7 linked regions of the Homo sapiens genome follow. The protein of the gene in region 4 purifies or fractionates together with the protein of the main gene of each other region. This does not show direct contact. Each region holds a gene or a part of one and is shown on either strand. Other genes may lie near its edges. The genes, in order: KLHL8, CUL1, CEP63, DCX, CDK5RAP2, SPN and KLHL15.

Region 1 (3,500 bases), on a different chromosome or scaffold from region 4:
TGCAGTGAGCTGAGATTGCGCCGCTGCTCTCCAGCCTGGGCAACAGAGCAAGGCCTTGTCTCAAAAAAAAAAATTTTTTTTTAATTTTAAAGTATGTGTATATATATATATGAATATGATATGTGGTTAATTTGGAATATGAAAATTACCTGACTTTAAGAAACTGGCCTACTTGAAAGTAAGTGATCAAAGGATCGCCTTATAAAAAGATACTCTAAATTTGTCTGGAAATTTTGTCCCTGCTACAAACACATGTTAAATGCTGACCTGAAGCTGATTTTGATATTAAACAGAATCTTTCTTGGTTTCTTTTGAACAGGTTGGCTCAAAGCTAATCTCTTGTCACAAGCTGGTATTGGCTTGTGTTATTCCCTACTTTAGAGCCATGTTTCTTTCTGAAATGGCTGAAGCCAAGCAAACGCTGATTGAGATTAGAGATTTTGATGGTGATGCAATAGAAGACTTGGTAAAGTTTGTCTATTCTTCACGGCTCACTTTGACTGTTGACAATGTCCAGCCTCTCTTATATGCAGCCTGTATTCTGCAGGTTGAACTGGTGGCTAGAGCTTGTTGTGAATACATGAAGTTACATTTTCATCCCTCCAATTGCCTGGCAGTAAGAGCCTTTGCAGAAAGTCACAATCGAATAGACTTAATGGACATGGCGGATCAGTATGCCTGTGACCATTTTACTGAAGTAGTGGAGTGTGAAGACTTTGTAAGTGTATCACCGCAGCACCTCCATAAGCTTTTGTCCTCCAGTGATCTAAATATTGAAAATGAAAAGCAGGTCTATAATGCTGCCATCAAGTGGCTTCTTGCCAATCCTCAGCATCATTCCAAATGGTTGGATGAAACACTTGCACAGGTAGGAGCTGAAATAAGATTTCACACAGAAATGAAGTGATATGGAAGCAAATCAACATGCTTCATTTATTAGGAAAAGTGTAGATTATTTCAAGGAATATAGAAATTATTGATGTAATAAATAATAGAAATGGCTTTTAGCTCTCTAATTTTCCTGTTAACTTGCTGTGCTGTTTCAGGATGAATCTAAATTTGTCACATTTGAATTAGCAATATCATTCTCTGCTTTTAACCTGAATATTTAAAATATTCCTTTGGGATACTAATGATGAATATTTTATTTATGCCAATAGAAAATGGTTTGAAGAAATAGCTCTAAATTAATATACTTTATAATTATTGTTTTATAATGGTTTCTAAATTTTAATGAATTATTTTGCTAATAAAAGTATAGTTATTCCTAATGTGGATAGATTTATTATGTAAACAACCATAGGACATCACTTCTATTTTCTTCTCTCACCGTAGTTTGACTTTTTTTAAACCTCAGAAATGTGTCTCATTGTTACTGTTCTTATTTTTTACTGTCAATAGGAGTTACCAGGATAAGAAGATTATAGGCCCTTGTGATCTTTTTTTCTTTTGTCGTCTTCCTCTCCTTTCTCTCCCTTCCCTCCTTCCCTTCCTCCATTTTTTCCTTTCTTCATTTATTCCTGAGAAGTAAAATGACATTTTGCTACTTAAAAGAAGAGTGTTCTTATTTACTTATTTTTTCTAAATTAAATGCTTTGTTAAAACTTAGTGCTTGATAAAAGCACTCAGTGATAATTCTCGTGATTTTTAATAACAAAGTTTCCTAATAGCATTATCAGAAACTTAAACAAATAGTAAGAAGAATGAAGAAGAATGAAAGTGCTTATAATTACCAGTGTTCTCATTTTAGATATTTATAGGCAGATGAAGTAAACCTATTCAGAGTATGATGATAAGACATTTTTTCAAGTGCATATCACAATATTTATGCATTCATATGAGTATCAAAGTTCAGAACACATTTACATCTTCTCAGAATTATTTTGAAAGTAAGTTTGTCAGCAAAGCAAATAGAAAGTTTCATTATCTTGCAGCTATATCTTATTTGTGTATATGTGTTTTTCTTTAAGATGGTAAGGCAGATTTCGTTCAAGGGGGGCCATAACAATAGATACAGGGACTGCTGCAACGAAGTCTTGCAGTTGGGGAGAGAGACTGGACTCAACCCCTTACGTGTGTGTGTGCTTTTAACTCAAAATAGCATTACCTGGTTTCATCATCCCCTTTAATCCACTGGAAAATCAGTGTATCTTTAATAGAGGAATGGTGAATGCCTCTGTTGAAAGAGGGGATGCATCCCTAAGTTAGTATATTCCCTTCCAAGATCATTAATTTGAAGAAAACAACACTTGTTTCAGATATGAATTTTTACATTTTTAAGTAAGAAATCACATTTCCCTATGTTTAATCTTAGCTTAAAAAGGCAAAAGAACAAAGCACAGCACTTTTGTTTTGATTGTGCCTTTATCAATAGAAGGGCCTTGTGATTATGTCAGTACCGTTTTTGGAAGTAAGCAATTTGAATGAAGACAATTCAATTATAAAGCCTATTTAAACCGATATTTAAAGTGGGTGGATATAATTTAACGTGTAGTCTGATTGCATTTGAGCAGACCAGTACTGGAAATTGCTTATAATTTGGCACATTGAAAATCATGAACATGTTACATTTCATGAAGTAACAACTTAAGTTTTAAAAAGAGAACATGCTGCAGTAGAAGTGGAGAATTACTCATCTTGTTTTCACCTTTATTTGATACAATTTTTAGACTTTATATTTTCCCAAGAAAATATAAAATTTGTTGTATTGCAACTATTCATGATCTTAGGTTCGCCTGCCATTGTTGCCGGTTGATTTTCTTATGGGTGTTGTGGCAAAAGAACAGATTGTCAAGCAAAATCTAAAATGTAGAGATTTACTGGATGAAGCAAGAAATTACCACCTTCACTTGAGTAGCAGAGCAGTACCTGACTTTGAATACTCCATTCGGACTACCCCAAGGAAGCATACTGCTGGTAACCAAATTATTTTGTCAATTCTCCTGGAAGGATCTTTGTTGTATTTGAGGGTTGTTCATGTGTGCCCAAACTTAGTTGTAATATAATTAGTGTCTGATTGCCTTAAAGTAATAATTGGCAAATACGGTTTTATATATTTATAATTTTTACTGTACATTATTTAGTTTTACCAATAAGCCAGTTTTTTAAAAAGCCGTAATCAGTCCTGTATACTCTGAAGAGCCTACTGAAATATCTCTTCTTTTGAGATCTTTCCCGATTCTGAACTTGGTTTACTATGTTGCATTGTCATTTACTCATTTGACATGTCTTAAGTTCTTCAAAGACAGCTGAGTATCTTATTTAGGTTTCTATCCCTAGGGCCAAGCATGGAACTTGAAATATATTGTGCATCTAAATATTTGTTTTTTCATTTTACCAAATAAAAAGGGCACTAAACATAGCTAACATTTGTATAATGGGTTATATTAAACTCTTAGAGTCTAAAGCCCTTATATTTTAGGAGGCAGGCAGTTTCACCTTTATTTGATACAATTTTTAGACTTTATAATTTTTCCCAAGAAAATAGTTCATGTTCGCTT
Region 2 (3,500 bases), on a different chromosome or scaffold from region 4:
AAGTTGGAGACACCTCTTCAGAGTTTCTGTGGTGGCTGATTCGTTTTATATGAATTAGGGGGTCTTGTTTATAAAGCAGTCTTGTAGAAAAGACCTGTACAAAAATTCATCTACCTTTAATTCACCTTTGAATTATTATTTGTTCATAGAATGAATCAGTTGTTAAAGGACAATCATCTCTTGTATATACAACTACAGAGGGCAGCAGTTTAGTAGGAATTTAAACCCCTTCATCATCTTTAATGACTGGGCCATGAAAGGGAATCTATGTGCCTTTTTATTTCTCCAAAGTTAAATTACAGCAGACTAGAAAGCAATTGGTAAAGTGAATTTCCTTTACTGAAGTTTAAGTGGATTATCTTAAAGGCAAACTTCTTCAGAATGTTTTTGGAAATGTTTTATAAATATCTCCTGTTGGTTTTCACCTTGGATATTCTAAATGACTACTTCATAATCTGTTCTTCAGTGTTGAGGTTACAGTATGAGATTGCCAGTTTGCTGTAGGTAAGGAAAGTCAACCTTCCCTCTTCCTCTGCACTAATCTGATGAGAACTGATCTTTTGAATGCTTGAAGCTGCATTCTGGCTAAGTGGTGCTTGTTTAAACGTACTGATGTTTTAAAACATGGTATCTTTTTAAAATTTTCAGTTCCAAGAACCCAGAGGAGGCAGAACTAGAAGACACACTCAATCAAGTGGTAAGTGCTTCATGAGCATACCCATTTCCAGTAGCTGTGTATTTCACAAGCTGTTTGTAATGTTATTTGTAGATGGCCTCTGAAATGTGAAAAGTAATAATCATTGATTTTATTTTGAATCTCTGGTTTTACTTCCTAAATTGAGTTACTACTTTTAGCATTCATACTTTTCTCATTAATACTCAGTCAGTCCAACTCACTGAATTAAGGGACTCACAAAACTTTCAAGACTCTGGAGTGGAGATTTTGCCATCATAAACGTTGGCGTACAGACCTGCCCAAAGCCAAAGGCACATCTTGGCTCCTGGCTTGTGGCCGGTGACAGTCAGCTCTGCACTGTTGGCTTGTGTGTGTGCTGGTTAAGTGTGTTGTCTCGGTGGCTTTGCCAGATGGTTGTCTTCAAGTACATAGAAGACAAAGACGTATTTCAGAAGTTCTATGCGAAGATGCTCGCCAAGAGGCTCGTCCACCAGAACAGTGCAAGTGACGATGCCGAAGCCAGCATGATCTCCAAGTTAAAGGTGAGTTTCATCTTTTCCTGAAAAATCCCAGCTTCTGAGTCATTATTAAAACAGCTCTATGGCCGAGCGCGGTGGCTCATGCCTGTAATCCCAGCACTTTGGGAGGCCGAGGCGGGCAGATCACGAGGTCAGGAGATCGAGACCATCCTGGCTAATATGGAGAAACCCCATCTCTGCTAAAAATACAAAACATTAGCCGGGCATGGTGGTGGGCGCCTGTAGTCCCAGCTACTTGGGAGGCTGAGGCAGGAGAATGGCATGAACCCGGGAGGCAGAGGTTGCGGTGAGCCGAGATCACACCACTACACTCCAGCCTGGGCAACAGAGTGAGACTCTGTCTCAGAAAAAAATAAAAAAGCTCTTAGTCTCTCCAGGTTATGAGGCAGGCAGAGGAGTTTGTGCAGTGGTTTGTACAAGAAGCTCTGCCACTGCTCTTCTGAAAGCCTCCCACAACTATCACTCTACTCTCGTTGGGCCCCGGTGCCTTCCCAACCCCTTCCCCACCCCACTGTGGGGCTTCCATCCTACCCAGGCCTGGCTGGGCTCAGCTCACCATCTGTGGGGCCTCTCCTGCCTCCCACACCTTTAGCCTTGCAGCACATTCACACTTCCACACTGTGCTGGCCTGGAGCTGAGTGGAGGTTTTGTTTGCTCTGGGCTTGGTTACTTTGCTGTCACGCAGCCCTTCCTCTGCCACCTCCTTTGCGTGCCTGTGTGTCGGCGCTGTCGAGTGCTCTTATCTGACTTGGGACATACTTTACTTTGGCCCCAAATTATGTAGGTATCTTTGTCAGCGTGGGCTGCCATGACGGAATACCATAGACCAGGTAGCTTAAACAACAGAAATAGTTTCTCACAATTCTGGGGGCCACAAGTCCGAGATCAGGGTGCCAGCTGATTCGGTTCCTGGTGCAGGCCCTCTTCCTGCTTTGTAGGCAGCCACCTTCTTGCAGTGCCTCACGTGTCAGAGAGAGAGTGCAGAGCTCTTGCACATCTCTTACAAGCACACCAATCCCATTGTGAGGCCCCATGCTCAAGACCGCATACCTCCACACAGCATCACGTTGGAGGTTTGGGCTTCAACATAGGGATTTTGGGGGCACACAGTTCAGCTTCTGGTAAGAGATAGAGACAGATTATTTCATCATTGTATTCTACCAGTGTCAGGACACCTTGCTCTTAAATGCTCACAAATTGTGTATGAATTGTGTGTGTGAACACTTCACTGTGCAACATAGAGTTGTGGGGTTTTTTGACAGTGTATTAATATTAATCCATGCATATTTGTACTGTAAAATATAGCAAAATGTTACTAGCTTTGCTAGTAGTTCCATATAATTAAGTATATATTGTATACTCTGATTTCTCTAAGATTCCCTTGTATACATTTGTATTTTTGTACAAATTAATAAGACAGTCATCTGGGTTCTTCTCAGCAAGCTTGCGGGTTCGAGTACACCTCTAAACTTCAGCGCATGTTTCAAGACATTGGCGTGAGCAAAGATCTGAACGAGCAATTCAAAAAGCACTTGACAAACTCAGAACCCCTAGACTGTGAGTATCCGTGTGTCTCTATGTTGTGTTTACAGGCAGAGTTCTCTGTAGCAAATGAAGAAATGACAAAATATTAGGTGAAGATGGGAGGGGCTTTGTCAGAAATTCAAGAACTAAGAAGCGGGAGATTCCTCCCAAATGCCCAGCCCTCCTCCCCCGACTCCCGTGTGACATTAGGAGATGACAACCCTTGAAGTGGTGTCAGCTCTACTGGGGCAAGGTCACCACCTGTTGGGATCTGGGGAGGGACTCACAGGCGTGGTTTTGTCTTGTAAACCTTAGCTTGGATCCATTCTAGCATTTATTTTAATGTTCACTTGGCCTGCATAGGTAACAGTCAAGCTAAAGACCTGTGGCTTCAGACTGGGATTAGGGATCAGTACAGGCAGGTGCAGGTGATTCAGTTCTCCAGGAGAGGCAGCTGGGCTGGTATTTTAGGGCCTTGCATAGTAGTAGGATGGCGGATTTATGCTTACATCATCTTTTGATCATCTTTGTCTTTTTAAATGAAAAATGGAGAATTTTATTTTTCCCAAATCAGAATGACAATTCTATTGTAAAACTGGACAGTTTTGCCAGTGGGCTTTTTAACTATCTGCGAAGATGAAATTACTGTTATAATTTATAGACCATGTGTGGCGTTTCCCAGTAATAAGTGAAACATACACTATAATGAAGTTAGCGGTTTTCTCCTGCTTGTGAGTTTGCATGAGTCTGGGGCTGTGATG
Region 3 (3,500 bases), on a different chromosome or scaffold from region 4:
TATGTAAAAGATAAAATTGCTTTTAACATGAACTGTTAACCTTTAGGCAAACAACAAGAGAAATATCATTTTACACTTTTTAGGTTATCTTTAAGTAATACATTTTTTGTTTTTACATTTATTTCTGGTTTTGGAAACCAGTAAGTATTTTCTTACTTTTATCTACATGTTAAATACACAAACATGCATACACACACATATTTTCTGCTTTATTCCTTTTGGAATACTTGGAGTACTTGAGATAGTCTTTGTTATTATTGAAGTATATGTGTACTCTTCCGTTTGACTAAAATTAAGTTTATTATTTTTGACGTTGGGACAACAGTTTACATTTTTATCACAGTTTTTTTATTGATTGGCTTTTTAGTAATATTTTAAATGACTGAGGTGATGTTTAAGATATTGGCTGGATATTTTTTGGATATCAAGAATGTAAATTAGATAGTCCAATTTATAGGTTTCAGGATTTTGGTTTTAAGTATGGGATCTTATTTTTGTCATACAGTTTGGAATCTGTGAGTGCAACGTGTAAACAGCTGAGCCAAGAACTAATGGAAAAATATGAAGAACTGAAGAGGATGGAAGCACATAACAATGAATACAAAGCAGAGATTAAGAAGGTAAAAATCTGCATACCTAGGATTGCAAAATTGTATGTGTTTATGGACAAAGCTGTGGATTGGGAGATTATAGGGGTTATTTTTAATGAGAAAAAAATGTAGTTCAAGGGACCACTTGATATTTAGGAGTGGAAGAGTTTGTGGAATGTGCATAGGGAAAGTGCCTTCTTTCTTTGGCATCGCCCCTGATGCCCAATAAATATTTTTAAGATAATTGAAGGCTGTCCCCTTTGAACTCAAAAACTTTATTTTAAACATGTTTTGATGAAAAGTTTTCTAAAAGACATACACTCTGTTGCTTGCAAAAAAATATGAACTGTCACTTAATATTTTCTTATTGCCTAAAGATAGTATTTATGTATTGTCTCCTGTGCTATGATGTAGTTAGTATCCTTGTCAGCTATTGAGGTATGCAGAGCTGTTTGTGTCTATATGAATGGGCCCTAACTGTCCTATTTGTTTGATTTGTATTTTTTGTTACTTCTTTAAGATTACTTCTAGTTCCTTACTTCCTCTTGTTCTATTTGTTATCCTGTGGACTAAGATACCATATGAGCAAAACTTTTAGATTCACAACTAAAAAAAAGAATGAAGGTCACAAGTACTCTCCTCTAAATTGTGTGCATGGACCTTGATTCTGGTCCTCAGCACTTGAATAACCCATCTCTCCCTGTTTTGAGGTATAATAAATGATTGTAGGTATAACCACCTGACCTTCAGTACAGATATGCAACTTGGTAAATTGCTAATTTTTCTGCAGATTTAATTTAAGAGAAATTTAATGTCTTGAGATAAGGTGAACTTTTATTTTATTAGCTAGTAACATATTATTCTATCTAAATGCTTTCTCTTAACTTTTGGTGCTTTCTTTTCTGCTTCTTTATAGTTGAAAGAACAGATTTTACAGGGTGAACAAAGTTACAGTTCTGCACTAGAAGGAATGAAGATGGAAATCTCCCATCTAACTCAGGAGTTACATCAGCGAGATATCACTATTGCTTCCACCAAAGGTTCTTCCTCAGACATGGAAAAGCGACTCAGAGCAGAGATGCAAAAGGCAGAAGACAAAGCAGTAGAGCATAAGGTGAAGCCTGAACAAAACCTTTTTTAAATTTGAAATTTGTTTTAAAGATGGAGTTGATTAAAGACATAATTTTCATAATATTTAATTCAGTGAATTTTTATTAGATACCTGCTTTGAGCTGAGAGTATGCTGGCTAGCAAAGAGTTTAGTGAGCATGGTGGGGAGGTGAGAGTAGACACAGACAAGTAAAGTGACTGTATCAGTGGTGTATGGTGAGAGTCACTAGAGATCACAAGCAGCCTGAATCTAGACCACTCGCTGCAAAGGCCTTCCAGAAGGTGTGATAGCAAAGCTAAGTTAGGAGCAAGCTGGGTGATGGGGAGGAAAAGTGTTTCAGGCACAGGAAAATACAGAGGTCTCTAAGAGAGAGTAGAAACACGCTTGCTGTGGTTGAAACTAGAGTACAAGTGGGATGAGTGGAAGGTATGAGACTGGAAAGCAGGGACTGGCTGCTGAAGGGCTACGTTAGCCACGTAAAGGAGTTATACTGTGACCTTGAGGTCAGTAGGGAATGGCTGCAAGCAGGAGTAAAATTCAGTGGTCCTTAAATGGAGAATAAGCAGGGAGACAGAGCACCCAGATGCTGTTACAGTGGTAAGATGGTGGCCTGAGCAGTGGGCAAGGGAGGCAGAGGGAAATGGATGAATTCTGGAGATACTGGGCTGGTAAAAATGACTGGGCATTGTATTTGATTGGCAGGGAAGGTGAGGTAGGCAGAGTTAAGGAATGGTGCTCCACAGGATTTAAACTTAGGCAACTGATGGAAAGTGATGCTTTTTAATGAAATAGAGAAAAGACAGGGAGCAAGTTTGGTGAAGGATGATGAATTTGTGTGAAAAGTACACAGACTGGGGAAACTGGTGGAGAGGACATTGGTTTGACACATTTGTTTGGAATAAAGGCTGGAATTTTGTATGGGTAATAGTCAATTCCACAGAAGGCCTGGAGTTGAAGATTAAAATCAGGATTAGGCATTTAGCTGTGGCTGTCCTTTCTTCATGGTGACATTTGAAACCCCCTGAGAGACTTAATGATTATAGTGAGAAAGCATAGCGTAAGAAGAGAAGTGACTCAAACCAAACTTAGGATACTTCTCATTTAGTGTAAAAAAGATGTTGGAATGAAGCTTAAAAAAAGGAGCAGTGAGGAGGGAAATCAGATAGTTTTTGCCAAGCCAAGGAAAGAAGGAATATTTTCAAATGGGAATGGTCAAGCACAAAAGCTGAGGGGAATGAGAACTGAATATAAGTTGTTATTTTGTGAATAAAGTACAATTCCATGTGACGTTGCAGGTAGAAGCCAAATTGGAGGAGGCCAGCACAGGAGAATGGGTAGGGATTTAAGGGGTTCAGTGGATTGAAACTTTGCTGCTTTGTCACCTGATTTATCCTATTAGAATGATATCTTCATCCCATTCATGTTCATTCACCTTAATAACATCTTAAAAATCTTTTTAGAAAGTCCATATATATATATATATATATATATATATATACACACACACACGTACATATATATATGTATATATATATATAAATATGTATATGTATATATATATAAATGAAGAATATGACTTAGCCTAATGAAAATTCCATGTGGAAAAATTTTGTAAGATGCATGTGATTTACATGTTATATTTATTTTTTTCTGTTTTCCCCTTTTCAGGAGATTTTGGATCAGCTGGAGTCACTCAAATTAGAAAATCGTCATCTTTCTGAAATGGTGATGAAATTGGAATTGGGTTTACATGAGGTACATAAATAGAAACTTAAGTTTTTCTACTATCCAAGCCTTCA
Region 4 (4,225 bases):
GCAAGAAAGAAGTTTTAAGACATTAGCTTTGTTGGAATTTCCATATTTTCCTGCCCTTATTCCTTGATTTTTCTTTGCCTCTAGCCTGAATAATGTTGATTTTTCATGAGGTTGCCACAAGGTAAGGCAACAACACATGGAAGAAAACAGGGCAGACACATGCATTCCCCTGAGGTACTTGTATAGTAACCAAGAAATCAGCAGCAAGGTGTTGGGGGGACTTAACTAGGTAGGTTGCACATTTGAGGCTATCCACTCAACTAACAGACAGTTCCAGGCTTTGCTGAGTCAACACCTTTCACAGAAGAAAGACCATCATATATTTTATCCCACTTGGTGGCAGCTTACAATAAAACACATGCAGAGAAAATGCTTAAATATAAAAGTTCAACAGCACTATATAAAAGGAAGGGTTAATTATACTAGGAATCAGATATAAAATAATTACTGAGCATGCTCTTAGCTCTGAGCTTCCTGGAAGCCAAGCAAAAATAGAACCATGATAGTTCAAGGCTGCTACATATTGATGCATGTAGCTTCAATTGTGAAGATGGTAGCATCCCCCTACCCCATTTAACCTCTCACCTTTCTCTTTTGTTTTATAGTTCGGCCTGATCTAATTAGTTCAATTTGGATGCTTCCTTGAGTTTTTTTTGTAACATATTTTATATAAAGAAGTCAGTTAGTGACAAATAAGCAGTTTGAGGAGAAATCTGTTAATATTTATTTTGTAGCCATCAGATTTACTTCACATAGAAAGGTCTTTGGGTTGGGTTTGAACTTCCAAACTCTCAAAGGTAAATGCCACATTAACCTTTCATTAACCAAATTCTTACACCAAGCTGATAGATTTGGGATGTCCTTTTTACTTCTATCTTCCATAATATTCTAAAATTATTTTCCCTTGTTTTGTTCCTATCCTACTTCCTCTTAGTCTACTTTGTTGACTTCATTAAAAAACAAAAAACCAGTTGTTGGATACTTGAGCTAAACTGCCTTAAAGAATCTGCAGATTTTATTTTATTTTTTTTCTCTCAAGAGGGTAAAAGGAAGAGAGCTACAATTTCTAAGAAGCCTGGCTTGGCTGTCTGAGTCTGGCCCCCAGGCAGATTAGGCCAAGGTTTTGGCCAAGTGAAATTGCCAATTTTCTAAAAGAAAGGGCTAGCACATTGCTCATTAGAGCATTCTGATTTTGTCTGCGCAATCTTTTTGCTACCCCGCAATTTCCTGTTGGTTATAAATGAAACCTTTCTAGCTGTTAATGCAGCCTGTGAATTTTTTTAAAAGCATGTAATTAATCATAGGAGGTTGGGGGGATTCACTAAGCCTGAGTTACATGGGAGAAGCTGGACAAGGCACTAGGACCTAGAAGGCATCTATCCACCCTGGCAGGAATTTCTTGCTTGGAGCTCAGACAACAAAGGCATAGAGAGATTGGTTTTCTTTCTCTCAGCATCTCCACCCAACCAGCAGAAAACCGGTGAGTGGGGCTTTTAAGTGATTTTCAAGAAGAATGTAACAGATGTCAAACGGGAAAAGCACAAGGCAAAGCCTGCTCTCTCTGTCTCTCTGTCTCCTCTTCTCCTTTTTTGCCTTATTCTATCCGATTTTTTCCCTAAGCTTCTACCTGGGATTTTCCTTTGGAAAAGTGAGTTTGATGTTCCTTTGTTTTCACTGTGATGTTAATTTAGAATAATACTACCTCTGATCCTAAAGCAAAGCAAAGCCTTACTGGCATGCCTGGGGAAATGTTTGCTGCTTGCCTTGAGGAGGTGGGGTCTCTTACCACTGCAGGTTGTCTGACAGAGACAATGCTGAGCTCAGCATAGGTCATGGTGACATTGGAAAAAAGGCGGAATTGAGCCTGGCAGACCCATTAGGCACCAGTCTTTCTTATCTCCTGTCCTCCTGGTCCCTTGCAAATATATTGATGTGGCAGTGTGTAGCAGCTGAGCCCTGCTTGCTTTGTGAGTCCTTTTATCCCCATCTGTGAGATGCATGTTAATAGTTTGGCTCGTAGGATGTCACTACATTTGCTAGCATTTGTGGCTTCAGTTGTATTGGGTTTCATGTTTTGATTGTTTGGGGTTCTTGGTGGGGGAGGGGGTTCAACAGAAGGGAGAAAAGCAAAGCCTGACAAATGACCATCTTTTCTCAGCTAATGCACCTGGGCAATATACAAGTTTGGGGTGAATTGCCTGCTGTGAGGGTAAATGTCACTTCAATTAAGGTAGAAACCCAGAACAATGAAAGGTGTGCTTCCTTCTAAAGGTCCCGTATGCTGTTCGGAGAGTCATTTGTGAATCTTTCAACAATTAAATTATTCCATTAAGAGGTGTTGCTGCATCAGTGGGGAGGGGGTGGAGCACCTGGGGGGGAAAAAAAAGGATTTTGTGAACAAATGGAACCGGGGGAAGACAGAGCTAGTAACTTGTTAAATAACTTATTTTTCTAATCCTTTTTCCCCCCAGCTTATTTCTTATGAATGTCGGATAGCTGCACCAGCTTGGTGGGGAAAGGGTTTGATGAATAGCACAAAGACACTGGCTGTTCCCTGGAGGCTGTCCCTTTAAAGGAGAATCTTAGTTTATTCTGGGGGGAGGGGATGCACACATTAGAGTAGGAAAGAGGGCTTGGAATAAAATGAAAACACTCCCCCTTCATAGTCATTGTACTGAAATGCAAAGACTGCTTCCTAAGCTGGAGATGCTAACCTTGGGTAGCTCCTTCTGTTCTCTTCAAGGGGAATTTTGTCAGGCTATGGATTCATTTACAACTGTTAGTCATGTGGGCATGTGTGAGGAAACAGATGCCAGTTTTAATGTATTTAGCCCGAAGTTCCAATTTGATAGGAGCCACTGTCAGTAAGTCTCAGGATTTTCAGCTATTTCAAAATCTCCCCTTCTCCTCTGTCTGGAACAGTGCCAAGAGTGCCTCCCTCTCTATCTCTTACTCCCAACCCCCACAACCACCAGCACCCCCGCCCAGCCCCTCCTTCTTCTCTATTAAGATCAATATTCCTGCAGGTCAGGGGCAAGCAGCAGATGGGTCACAGGCTTTTTTCAACCAGTTCTTTTCACAAGCAGCAGATTGCAGATCTGGATCTGGCTAATATTTAAAATCCCTTCTTTTTTCCTTCTCCTTGTCCCTTTTTGTTTTTGCCTCTCTTCACCCCCATCCCTTTCTCCCACGCTCAGGTCTCTGAGGTTCCACCAAAATATGGAACTTGATTTTGGACACTTTGACGAAAGAGATAAGACATCCAGGAACATGCGAGGCTCCCGGATGAATGGGTTGCCTAGCCCCACTCACAGCGCCCACTGTAGCTTCTACCGAACCAGAACCTTGCAGGCACTGAGTAATGAGAAGAAAGCCAAGAAGGTACGTTTCTACCGCAATGGGGACCGCTACTTCAAGGGGATTGTGTACGCTGTGTCCTCTGACCGTTTTCGCAGCTTTGACGCCTTGCTGGCTGACCTGACGCGATCTCTGTCTGACAACATCAACCTGCCTCAGGGAGTGCGTTACATTTACACCATTGATGGATCCAGGAAGATCGGAAGCATGGATGAACTGGAGGAAGGTAATTTAAATAGTGGGTGGTGGCCGTTGGTGGGAGGTGGCATCATTGGTTATGGTTACATTCTTCGGTTGCTTTGAAAAAAAATTAGGCAATGTATTTTTCAAAACACCGGGTTGATTGATGCTCAAATTTCTAATGCTATAGACATCAACAGAACCATTAGCAATCACCCTTCAGTCTCTGCTGAGGTTGAAGTGTGAATGGTGGTGATCATGCATTGTGCTTATCTGCCAGGGTATAAAAAGGAAAATCTTAATTGTAGCATTTACTCTAGATTTTGTTCATAATTAACTCTGAGTAGCACTATTGAGGCAGAGCATGAAATCATTAAGGGTATAACGAGGAAGGACATTTGGTTGGGTTAACAGAGAAAATATTATGCCCAAATTTTCTTTGAACTGCTGAGAAATTATTTGTGAATTGCAACTCATTGGAAATATGCACCCTAAGAGCAGGATTTCCTGGACATATTCACAGAGGATTATTCTTTTAGGTAAGTGGTCGCGGCTCAGCTGTTGCTTCTAAAAAGCCTACTTTAGGGTGTGTCCCTAAGGCTGAGGTCATTGGGAGAAATACCAAAGAAAGCTGTAGGTATGTCTGGTATTTTAATAAAGACCATTCCTATTAGAATAGGATTTGACT
Region 5 (3,396 bases), on a different chromosome or scaffold from region 4:
TCTTTTGTCACTAACTGTGATCATTTTTTGATATCAATGCATAGAGCTCTACAACGTCATTTTTAATAGTTGCTAAATTATTGTATTATATGTAAGTACCATAATTTATCCAGATCTATACTGAAATCAGGTTATTTTTTCCTACCATGAACAATGCTGAGACGAACATCCTTGTACATAGGCATCTTCTTGTGCTTATGTTATTATTCCTTGGGGGAAATGCCAGCGTGTAGAATTGCTGGGGCAAAGAGTTAAGCGCATCTCAGTTTGGTAGATCTTGCCAGGGCGTTCTCACTGGGCCATGCCATCCCGCACTTCCACCAGAGGTCACGAGGTGCTTTCCCCTTACCCTCAATGAGTTTTGTCCAATTTTGCCTTTTCCTGGTTGTCAGGAAAAGGCTTCTAGTTTCCATTCAAATATTTTTGCTAGTGAGGTTGAGCATCATCTTTTTATATGGCTTTGTAATTCTTCCTGTGTAACATGATGTTTATGTTCTTTGTTCATTTTTCTAATTTCTCTTCTCTTTAGATTGGAGAAATGAAGGCAGAGGTCACCAAACTACATAAAAAATTGTTTGAACAAGAAAAGAAGTTGCAAAACACCATGAAGCTTTTGCAGCTGAGCAAGCGCCAGGAAAAAGTCATCTTTGATCAATGTGAGTGAGTGTGGGGGTGGCCGCTATGCCTGACCACTTCCTGCCTCCGAGGGCTCCCAGTTCTGCCCTGGATTACCCACTTTGGAGCCCAGATGGTTTGTAATCATGCCTCCTATCTGTGGGCTTCTTTTCATACTCCATCCTTTCTGACTCACATAGACAAATGTATTCACTTAACACACCTTTGTAGAGCGGCCTTTTGGTGTCAGGGACTGTCGTCTCACTGGGAGACAGTCGTGTGGCATGTGCAGTGATGGGAACATGCAGAGCACTGGGGTGGGAGTTGGGTGGCCGTCACTCTGTCCCGGCAAGGTGGGCGTCTTAGACAAAGTGACCACCTCGCTGAGTGTGAAATGAAAGCAGACGTCGTCACATGGAGCGGGGAGTGGCAGTCCCTCAGGGAAGAGCATGGACAGAGGCACAAAGGCAGGAAATAAGTTTTTGTATGTGAGAAACCAAAACCAGTCCCTGTGGGGTAAAGGCTGCAAACAGTGAATTAAGGTGGGAGGGATTGGGGGTCAGGGAGTACTTCATGAAAGACTGTAGGTGGCAGGCTCAGGGCAGAGGATTGGCCTGTCACATCTGTGTGCAAGAATGGCTCGCTGGTGGCTGCTCCACCAGTGAGGGGGAGGCTGACTCACTAGTCAGACAGGAAAGGTGGCTAGGACGCTGGGGATCCAGAGGAGGGCATGGATTTGAGAAATACTTCTCAAGGCAGATGCCGAGACTCAGGGTTGGTGAGGTTAAGTAACTTTTGTAAGGTCAGTCCCAGTTCTGATCTAGCCACTTTGGAGATTGTTTGGGAGCAGCTCTGTCTCCTGGTTTAAACCCTCAGCACTCCCTCCCGCTGCATTTAGAGGAGCAGGCGGTAGCTGAGTTTCCATTAGTGCCTGTTGGCAACATGGCCCTGGCCAAGCCTGCGCTGTCTGTGTGTCAGTTTCCCTGTCTTAAGAGAACTGCTGACTGCAGCACTTTTTCTCTGGAGGTGCCAGCCTGCCTTGTGCGGCTCTCCTGTCAAAGTCCAACATTTCTGGGGCATTTCTGAGAAGCACAGGACAGAGATTATTGCCAAGTAGGAGTTCTCCTTAGCCACCCCTGGGAACCTTCTGAAAATAGACTCTGTGAGACTGCCAGTGTTTGGACTGCAAAAGAGAGGAGCGCAGCCACTGAGCAGGCACTGAGTTCCTGTTCTTTGCCCCTTACGCCAGGTCCTGGGGACAGAGATGAACGAGACAGTCTTTGCCAGTGAGGGTCGTGGGCTTAATAGGGGAGACACAGAGCTTAGCTGCAGGACGATGTGCTGAGTGCATCCTAGGAGGCCTGAGAGGTGGTTCAAGACTGACTGGGTCTTGAAGAATGACTAGGAATTTGTCAGCGAAGGGGCAGGAATAGGATTCTGGCAGATGGCCCTGTGGACTTGCTGGTGTGCTCCCAGGGGTGAGAGAGAACTGAGTGCTCAGGGACATGCTTAGGACGTGCAAAGGGTTTTCCTCTGAGAGATGAGTGAGAGGGAGAAGCAGGAACCAGGTTGCAAGGAGCCTTGTGGACAGGACTCCAGGACGAGCAGCAGGGACCGGCGGGGTCCATGCGTGTATTACAAGATCCCATGGCTGAGCTTGGAGGGGCCAGGAGGCCGGGAAGACCTCTTTGGGGGCTGCAGCAGTCCCCCAGGTGGGCAGTGGGTCAGGACTGTGGGGGAGAAGGGATGGTTTTGAAAGATTGTAAGGAGGTCAACCTGGCAGAGTGGTGGATGTCTGTGGGGTTCTGGTTGAGGGTTTCGTGTCACTCGTAGAGAAAAAGAGCACTGAGGGGAACCTGGAGAGAGACAGTGCCAGCTGTGGTCCTGTTAAGGCAGCTGTGGAATATTTAGGTTAGACTCTTGGAGCAGCAGTGGGGTGGGGAGCAATGCTCTGCATAGGTCTAGAGAAAGGCAGAACTCTCTGCATTGGCATCTCTCCTCCTCAGCAGCCTTTGGCCCTGAACAGTCACAGGGCAGGTAGCTAACCCTATTGACAGGTGAGAAAATTGCAGAAGTAGGTTTCGATGGGTTGAGTACTGTGGTCGGTCAAAAGGACAGAACTAGAACCCAGATCCCCTGTGTCCTAGGTCAGAGAACATGGAATTATTGATTGAGCACAGTTCAGATCTCCATTCTCCTATGTGACCTGCATTAGACTAGAACCCTAAGCTTTCGATTCCTCATCTCTAACTGGAGACGTGAGTTCCAAAGGACTCAGACTAACTAGTTGGTCCCGGGTTCAATAGCAACTTTATAAAAAGCACCCCAGTTTTCTCATCTGTAAAATAAGGATGATAACGCTACCTAAACTGTATTGTACTTAGCACAGTCTCGGGGGCAGAGGAGATGCTCAACCAGTCCCTCCTCTTTCTTTCCATTAGGCCAGACCAAATCCTATGCATGGAGGTGGCAAATCATTCATAGTAAGAAGAGCCGCAAATGTCTCATAGCACTTCCCCTCCTGAGCTGGTATTGTCCATCTCCATATCTCCTAGGCCTGGCACAGAGCAGGCTCCGCCAGAGCAGGGTGAGGGGCTTGCTCCAGGCAGCATAGCTGGTGGCTGACCCGGGCCTGCAACTCCTCCTTTGCCAGGCTCTGCAGCTCATCCCAAGGAGTCAGGTCCTTGGAAATTCTCCAAGCCCTGCGGACTTCACAGACCTGCTCTGGGTCTAAAGGGACTAGGAGAAAGTTGGCATAGCACCTCCTCTTCCTCCGTCCCC
Region 6 (2,223 bases), on a different chromosome or scaffold from region 4:
TGGAGCAGTTCAATATAGAGTCTTTTTTGAACAAACGTGAAATAGATGTCTTTTTTTTTTTTTTGAGATGGAGTTTTCACTCTTGTTACCCAGGCTGGAGTGCAATGGCGTGATCTTGGCTCACCAGAACCTCCGCCTCCTGGGTTCAAACAATTCTCCTGCCTCAGCCTCCCAGGTAGCTGGGATTACAGGCATGCACCACCAAACCCGGATAATTTTGTATTTTTAGTAGAGATGGGGTTTCACCATGTTGGTCAAGCTGGTCTTGAACTCCCGACCTCTGCTGATCCGTATGCCTCGGCCTCCCAAAGTGCTGGGATTACATGCGTGAGCCACCGTGCCCGACAATAGATGTCTTTTAATTTTCTGGAGGAAAAAGCAAAGCAAAAGAAGCAGTGGATATTTTAAGACTAAAAAGGAAAACAAAAAAAGGAGATAGAGCAGGCCAGACGTGGTGGCTCAACGTCTGTAATCCCAGCACTTTGGGAGGCCGAGGCAGGTGGATCACCTGAGGTCAGGAGTTCAAGACCAGCCTGACCAACATGGTGAAACCCTGTTTCAAAATACAAAAAATTAGCTGGGCGTGGTGGCGGGCACCTGTAATCCCAGCTACTTGGGAGGCTGAGGCAGGAGAATCCCTTGAACCCAGGAGGTGGAGGTTGCAGTGAGCCGAGATCACGCCATTGCACTCCAGCCTGGGCGACAAGTAAAAAACTCCATCTCAAAAAAAAAAAAGGAGATAGAGCAAGGAACAGTAAGAAAATAGTTGGGTGCAGTGGCTATGCGGTGGCACTATAGGAGGCTGAGGCGGGCAGATCACCTGAGGTCAGGAGTTGGAGACCAGCCTGGGCAACATAGACCCCTATCTCTACAAAAAATTTGAAATATGAAAAATTAGCCAGGTGTAGTGGTGTGCGCCTGTGGTACCAGCTACTCAAGAGGCGAAGGCAGGGAAGATTGCTTGAGCCCAGGAGTTTGAGGCTATAGTGAGCTGTGATCATGCCACTGCACTCCAGCCTGGGCAATAGTGTGAGACTCTGTCTCAAAAGAAAGAACATGGCCAGGCGTGGTGGCTCACACCTGTAATCCCAGCACTTTGGGAGGCCGAGGCAGTCAGATCATGAGGCCAGTTTGAAACCAGCCTGGCCAACATGGTGAAACCCTGTCTCTACTAAAAATACAAAAATTAGCCAGGCGTGGTGGCATGCCCCCGTAATCCCAGCTACTTGGGGGTCTGAGGCAGAAGAATTGCTTGAAACCGGGAGGCAGAGGTTGCAGTGAGCCGAGATCGTGTCATTGCACTCTAGTCTGGGCGACAGAGCAAGACTCCGTCTTGGAAAAAAATTTAAAAAAAGAAAATATAAAATATGGTATAAGATTAAATATATTAGTTATGAAAATAATTGTAAATGGCTTATTGAACTTATAGTCAGTAAAAATCATGTTTTTGAAAATTATGTAATGACTTTGGAAAATACCAGCAATATAATGTTAAGTGGGGAAAAAAGCAAGTTACTCCTCTGTAATACATATGATTTTAGTTTTGTAATAAAAATTCCCAACCATATATGCACTTATAGGGAAACAAAGGACCCATCGCAAATGTTTTCCATGCTGATCTCCAAAGTGGTGAGTTTATGTGTGATTTTTATTTTGTTTATGCTCTTCTGTATTTTCCGAATTTCATACAATAAATATCTGTTACTTTTACAATATGAAAAAATAGTGGTCAAAAAGGTGTTCAAGGGGGTGGCCTGGGGGTGTCTGGTTTGAGGAGAGTGGTAGGGGATGAGGCTGCAAGTGGAGGTTGGAGCCATGCTATGAAAAGTTCAAGAGTTTGAATTGAGTTCTGAGGTTTGTTTTTGTTTTTGTTTTTGTTTTTTGAGACGGAGTCTCACCCTGTCACCCAGGCTGGAGTGCAGTGGCACGGGTTCATGCCATTCTCCTGCCTCAGCCTCCTGAGTAGCTGGAACCACACGCGCCCGCCACCACACCAGGCTAATTTTTTTGTATTTTTAGGAGAGACAGGGTTTCACCATGTTAGCCAGGATGGTCTCGATCTCCTGACCTCGTGATCCACCTGCCTCGGCCTCCCAAAGTGCTGGGATTACAGGCGTGAGCCACAGTGCTCTGCGTGAGCCATAGTGCTCTGCTGAGAGTTTGAATTGCATTCTGGAAGTAGTGGTGAAATCAACACACCTAAGTCTGCTCTTCTCCTCTCTT
Region 7 (3,500 bases), about 87 Mb from region 4:
CCTCCTACGAAGTGCTAACTGCTTATTTAAATAACGGTATTCTTTAATTCAAATGTAACGTTACCGTAGGGGCTTTGCTTTTCATCGTTCTAGGCCGCTTTAGGCCCCTTTTCTTACTCCAAATATTTAACACCTTACATTTGTTAGTCTTTTCTGTTTTCCGAATTTGTTTGCCTTTGTTAATCTGATTAAGTGGTAATTTAGAAAATGCTTTGCAGACATATATGCCCTAATTTTAATGCCTGTTTTTCATATCTAGGGAGCAGGATGCTTGAATACTTCTACTAATTTGAAAATTGGTTTTGAAGAGCTTATCAATGCATTCATGTTTCAGTAATCCTTAATAGATCTAGAAATGTATAGAACATTTCAACTTTTTAGCACTTAATGTAATTATATAATTTTATTCTCATTTTTAATCACAACACGTAGTAGGTGCTTAGAGTCACAGTTTATCAGTGGTAGAGGATGTTAACTTGCACTCTTCATTGCTGATTAATTTGGGGAAAGAATAGGATAGTAAATATTTGTGGTTTGAAAATTGAATTTATTTTGCCAGGATTTATATGTGTAACAGATTAGTATTGATCATTTTTACTTGGCATATCAAAAATATAGTATGGTTTGGCTTAAATGGTCCACAAAAAGTGAAAAGAGAAGCATTTTTGGGTATATTGTTATTTTTAGCTAACAAATGGTTTTGAGTAGTTAGATGTTTTATTAAATTTATAATCCTCTAGTCCAATACCAGTTGTCTTTCAGAGTATGCTTTTGTGTTTTGTAAAAAGGCAAAATAATAGAAGTTGGGCAGGATTTACATAGTAAAAGGAAGAGCCTACTTCAAAGTGGCTGGTTTTATAGATTGGATTTATCACTAATCTTGATAAAATTTTGACAAATCATTGCTTTATTGGGGATTTCAAGGTTTGACCTTCTCTCTACCTCGAGTCGGGTTATCTCAGAAACCTAACCTTGATCAGGGCAGGCTTGGCTTCATGGATGTTCAGAAGGGCCCCACACTTGGTTTAATAATCTGCATGTAAAACTGGGATTGTACAGTATAAGGGTGAATGGTAAAATTCATGCTAATTTAAATTTTTAATTTTCCTTTACTCAGAACGACATTAAACATCAAATTTAAAAAACACTGAGAGCCGGGAGCGGTGGCTCAGGCCTGTAATCCCAGCACTTTGGGAGGCCGAGGCGGGCGGATCACCTGAGGGTCGGGAGTTTGAGACCAGCCTAACCAACGTGGAGAAACCCCGTCTCTACTAAAAACACAAAGTTAGCCTGGCGTGGTGGCGGGCGCCTGTAATCCCAGCTACTCTATTCCCAGCTACTCGGGAGGCTGAGGCGGGAGAATCGCTTGAACCCGGTAGGCAGAAGTTGCGGTAATCCAAGATGGCGGCACTGCACTCCAGCCTGGGCGACGAGAGCAAAACTCCGTCTCAAAAAAAAAAAAAACCGCGAAACAGTTGAGAGATACAGAAGAAAGTTTTGAAAGAGCTTTACATTTTATTACCTTTAACGACTTTTTTTTTTTTTTTAAGACAAGAGTCTTGTTCTGTCGCCCAGGCTGGAGTGGAGTGGTGCGATCCGATCCCCGCTCATTGGAACCTCCACCTCCCGGCCTCAAGCGATTCTTGGGCCTCAGCCTACTAAGTAGCTGGGATTATAGGCGCTCGCCACCACGCCCGGCTAATTTTTGTATTTTTAGTAGAGACGGGGTTTCACCATGTTGGCCAGGCTGGTCTCGAACTCCTGGACTCAAGTGATCTACCCGCCTTGGCTTCCCAAAGCGCAGGCGGGAGCCACCGTGCCCAGCCTTTTTTTTTTTTTTTTTTTATCTTTTGAGACACAGTCTTGCTCTGTCTCCCAGGCCGGAGTGCAGTGGCGCGATCTCGGCTCACTGCAACCTCCGCCTCCCGGGTTCAAGTGATTCTCCTGCCTCAGCCTCCCGAGTAACTGGGATTACAGATGCGCGTCAGCATGCTTGACTAATTTTTGTATTTTTAGTAGACACGGGGTTTCACCATGTTAGCCAGGCTGGTCTCGACTGACTTCAAGTGATCCGCCCGCCTCGGTCTCCCAAAGTGCTGGGATTACAGACATGAGCCACCGCGCCCGGCCATCGCCCAGCCTTTTAACAACATTTTTCCCTGATTTTGAACAAGAGTCCCCGCAAATGATGTAGGTGGCCTGTTGTCAAGCCTGGCCTTTCCCAGTGCAAATGTTTTGAGAGTGAATAATGTTAACTGTGAGGAGAATGAATCTTTAGCTTAGAGGAGGTGGATTACTTTATTAGCATCTATTTTCTCTGAATTGGAGTGCTATAGCTCATGTGGTGCTTTTTTTTTTTTATTGAAGAGAAATGAAAGATGGAGCCATGGGTGAGGCATTGTAGAACAGTGTTTAATAGGGGAGGCTATGAAGTCAGGCAGACCCCAACTTCACAACTTACTAATAATTATAGCCTTGGGCAAGTTACTTAACCTCTGTGAGCTTTGATGTTCTCATCTTTAAGTCGGGGATGGATACAAAACATGGAAGGTTGCGAGAATTAAATTTATCTGTCTTTCCAACAAATATTTATTAAGCACTTATTATGTGCCAAGCACTGTTTTAGGTGCTGGAGATGCAACAGTCAGTGAAGCAAAACCGACAAATTGAAGCAGAAAGGAAACTAAGTAAAATGGATAGCCTGTATTGCCATTTAATATACTGCAGAGAATAATAAAGTGGAGGGGCATGGGGATTGTCAGGTTGATGGGGCAGATGGGGTTTTGCAACTTTAAAAGAGGGTGTTTGAGGAAGGCCTCACTGAAATGACACCAAAGACCCTAAGGGAACCATATATATCTGGGGATAGTGTGATCCAGGCAGAGGGAACAGGGTGTAGAGAGGCCTTAAGTTGGGAGTGTAGCTGGTTTTCAAGGAACAGCGGCACCAAGGGAGATAGTAATATAAGATTATTATTATTGCCATTTTAAGAATCATTGGAAAGGCTCTCATAGTTCATCTCTGCCAAGGGTATATGTTGTATTGCTGCTGGTCCAAAAGTGGAAGACCTTTTCAGAATTTGAAATTTTAACTTTGCAAGTAAGAAATTAGGAAAGACAAAATATGTTGTCAGGTTTTCTGTTTTTAACGTAAGACCCTTAAAGCTCATCAGGCTCAATCACTGAAACATGTAAGAATGGATAGAAAAAAATACCCTTTGTCTCTGATAAGATCTTTGAATTTAGTTAATGATATATATTATAGACTAATGATTTGCAGGAAATCTGTATCATAACAGCAAGACTTTCCAAAATATTTAGTTTGGTTGTATAATTCTTATGAGGAACTGAAAGGCTAACATTACAGTATTTGTGATTTCATGTTAGAATAGAACTTAGAAGATTTGGGGTTTTATTCCCCAATAGAGGCTTTTCCTAGAATTCTCACTGGATCCAATCTCTAAAGGCTAGGGAAGCTGTTTTCCATGACATCACTCTTGG

Evidence for each region.
Region 1: the proteins of DCX (region 4) and KLHL8 purify together in Homo sapiens (affinity purification with mass spectrometry; one large-scale study listed by BioGRID and IntAct). This does not show direct contact.
Region 2: the proteins of DCX (region 4) and CUL1 purify together in Homo sapiens (affinity purification with mass spectrometry; 2 studies listed by BioGRID and IntAct, with this or other methods). This does not show direct contact.
Region 3: the proteins of DCX (region 4) and CEP63 purify together in Homo sapiens (co-immunoprecipitation; one large-scale study listed by IntAct). This does not show direct contact.
Region 5: the proteins of DCX (region 4) and CDK5RAP2 purify together in Homo sapiens (co-immunoprecipitation; one large-scale study listed by IntAct). This does not show direct contact.
Region 6: the proteins of DCX (region 4) and SPN purify together in Homo sapiens (affinity purification with western blotting, with the first as the bait; one study listed by BioGRID). This does not show direct contact.
Region 7: the proteins of DCX (region 4) and KLHL15 purify together in Homo sapiens (affinity purification with western blotting; one study listed by BioGRID). This does not show direct contact.

What each region holds. Positions count from the first base shown.
Region 1 is NC_000004.12:87,182,619-87,186,118, reverse strand, and holds part of KLHL8 (kelch-like protein 8), read left to right. Parts: intron 1-319; coding exon 320-868; intron 869-2,729; coding exon 2,730-2,916; intron 2,917-3,500. UniProt on the Homo sapiens protein: Substrate-specific adapter of a BCR (BTB-CUL3-RBX1) E3 ubiquitin ligase complex required for The BCR(KLHL8) ubiquitin ligase complex mediates ubiquitination and degradation of RAPSN.
Region 2 is NC_000007.14:148,785,903-148,789,402, forward strand, and holds part of CUL1 (cullin-1), read left to right. Parts: intron 1-648; coding exon 649-697; intron 698-1,086; coding exon 1,087-1,218; intron 1,219-2,654; coding exon 2,655-2,772; intron 2,773-3,500. UniProt on the Homo sapiens protein: Core component of multiple cullin-RING-based SCF (SKP1-CUL1-F-box protein) E3 ubiquitin-protein ligase complexes, which mediate the ubiquitination of proteins involved in cell cycle progression, signal transduction and transcription.
Region 3 is NC_000003.12:134,548,557-134,552,056, forward strand, and holds part of CEP63 (centrosomal protein of 63 kDa), read left to right. Parts: intron 1-505; coding exon 506-620; intron 621-1,506; coding exon 1,507-1,704; intron 1,705-3,369; coding exon 3,370-3,456; intron 3,457-3,500. UniProt on the Homo sapiens protein: Required for normal spindle assembly.
Region 4 is NC_000023.11:111,409,393-111,413,617, reverse strand, and holds the start of DCX (neuronal migration protein doublecortin), read left to right. Parts: upstream 1-1,425; 5' UTR 1,426-1,480; exon of another isoform or gene 1,481-1,648; intron 1,649-2,471; exon of another isoform or gene 2,472-2,643; coding exon of another isoform or gene 2,644-2,864; intron 2,865-3,197; coding exon of another isoform or gene 3,198-3,219; coding exon 3,220-3,583; intron 3,584-4,225. UniProt on the Homo sapiens protein: Microtubule-associated protein required for initial steps of neuronal dispersion and cortex lamination during cerebral cortex development. May act by competing with the putative neuronal protein kinase DCLK1 in binding to a target protein.
Region 5 is NC_000009.12:120,391,772-120,395,167, reverse strand, and holds part of CDK5RAP2 (CDK5 regulatory subunit-associated protein 2), read left to right. Parts: intron 1-529; coding exon 530-656; intron 657-3,396. UniProt on the Homo sapiens protein: Potential regulator of CDK5 activity via its interaction with CDK5R1. Negative regulator of centriole disengagement (licensing) which maintains centriole engagement and cohesion. Involved in regulation of mitotic spindle orientation.
Region 6 is NC_000016.10:29,669,154-29,671,376, forward strand, and holds the end of SPN (leukosialin precursor), read left to right. Parts: 3' UTR 1-1,723; downstream 1,724-2,223. UniProt on the Homo sapiens protein: Predominant cell surface sialoprotein of leukocytes which regulates multiple T-cell functions, including T-cell activation, proliferation, differentiation, trafficking and migration.
Region 7 is NC_000023.11:24,020,687-24,024,186, reverse strand, and holds part of KLHL15 (kelch-like protein 15), read left to right. Parts: intron 1-3,500. UniProt on the Homo sapiens protein: Substrate-specific adapter for CUL3 E3 ubiquitin-protein ligase complex.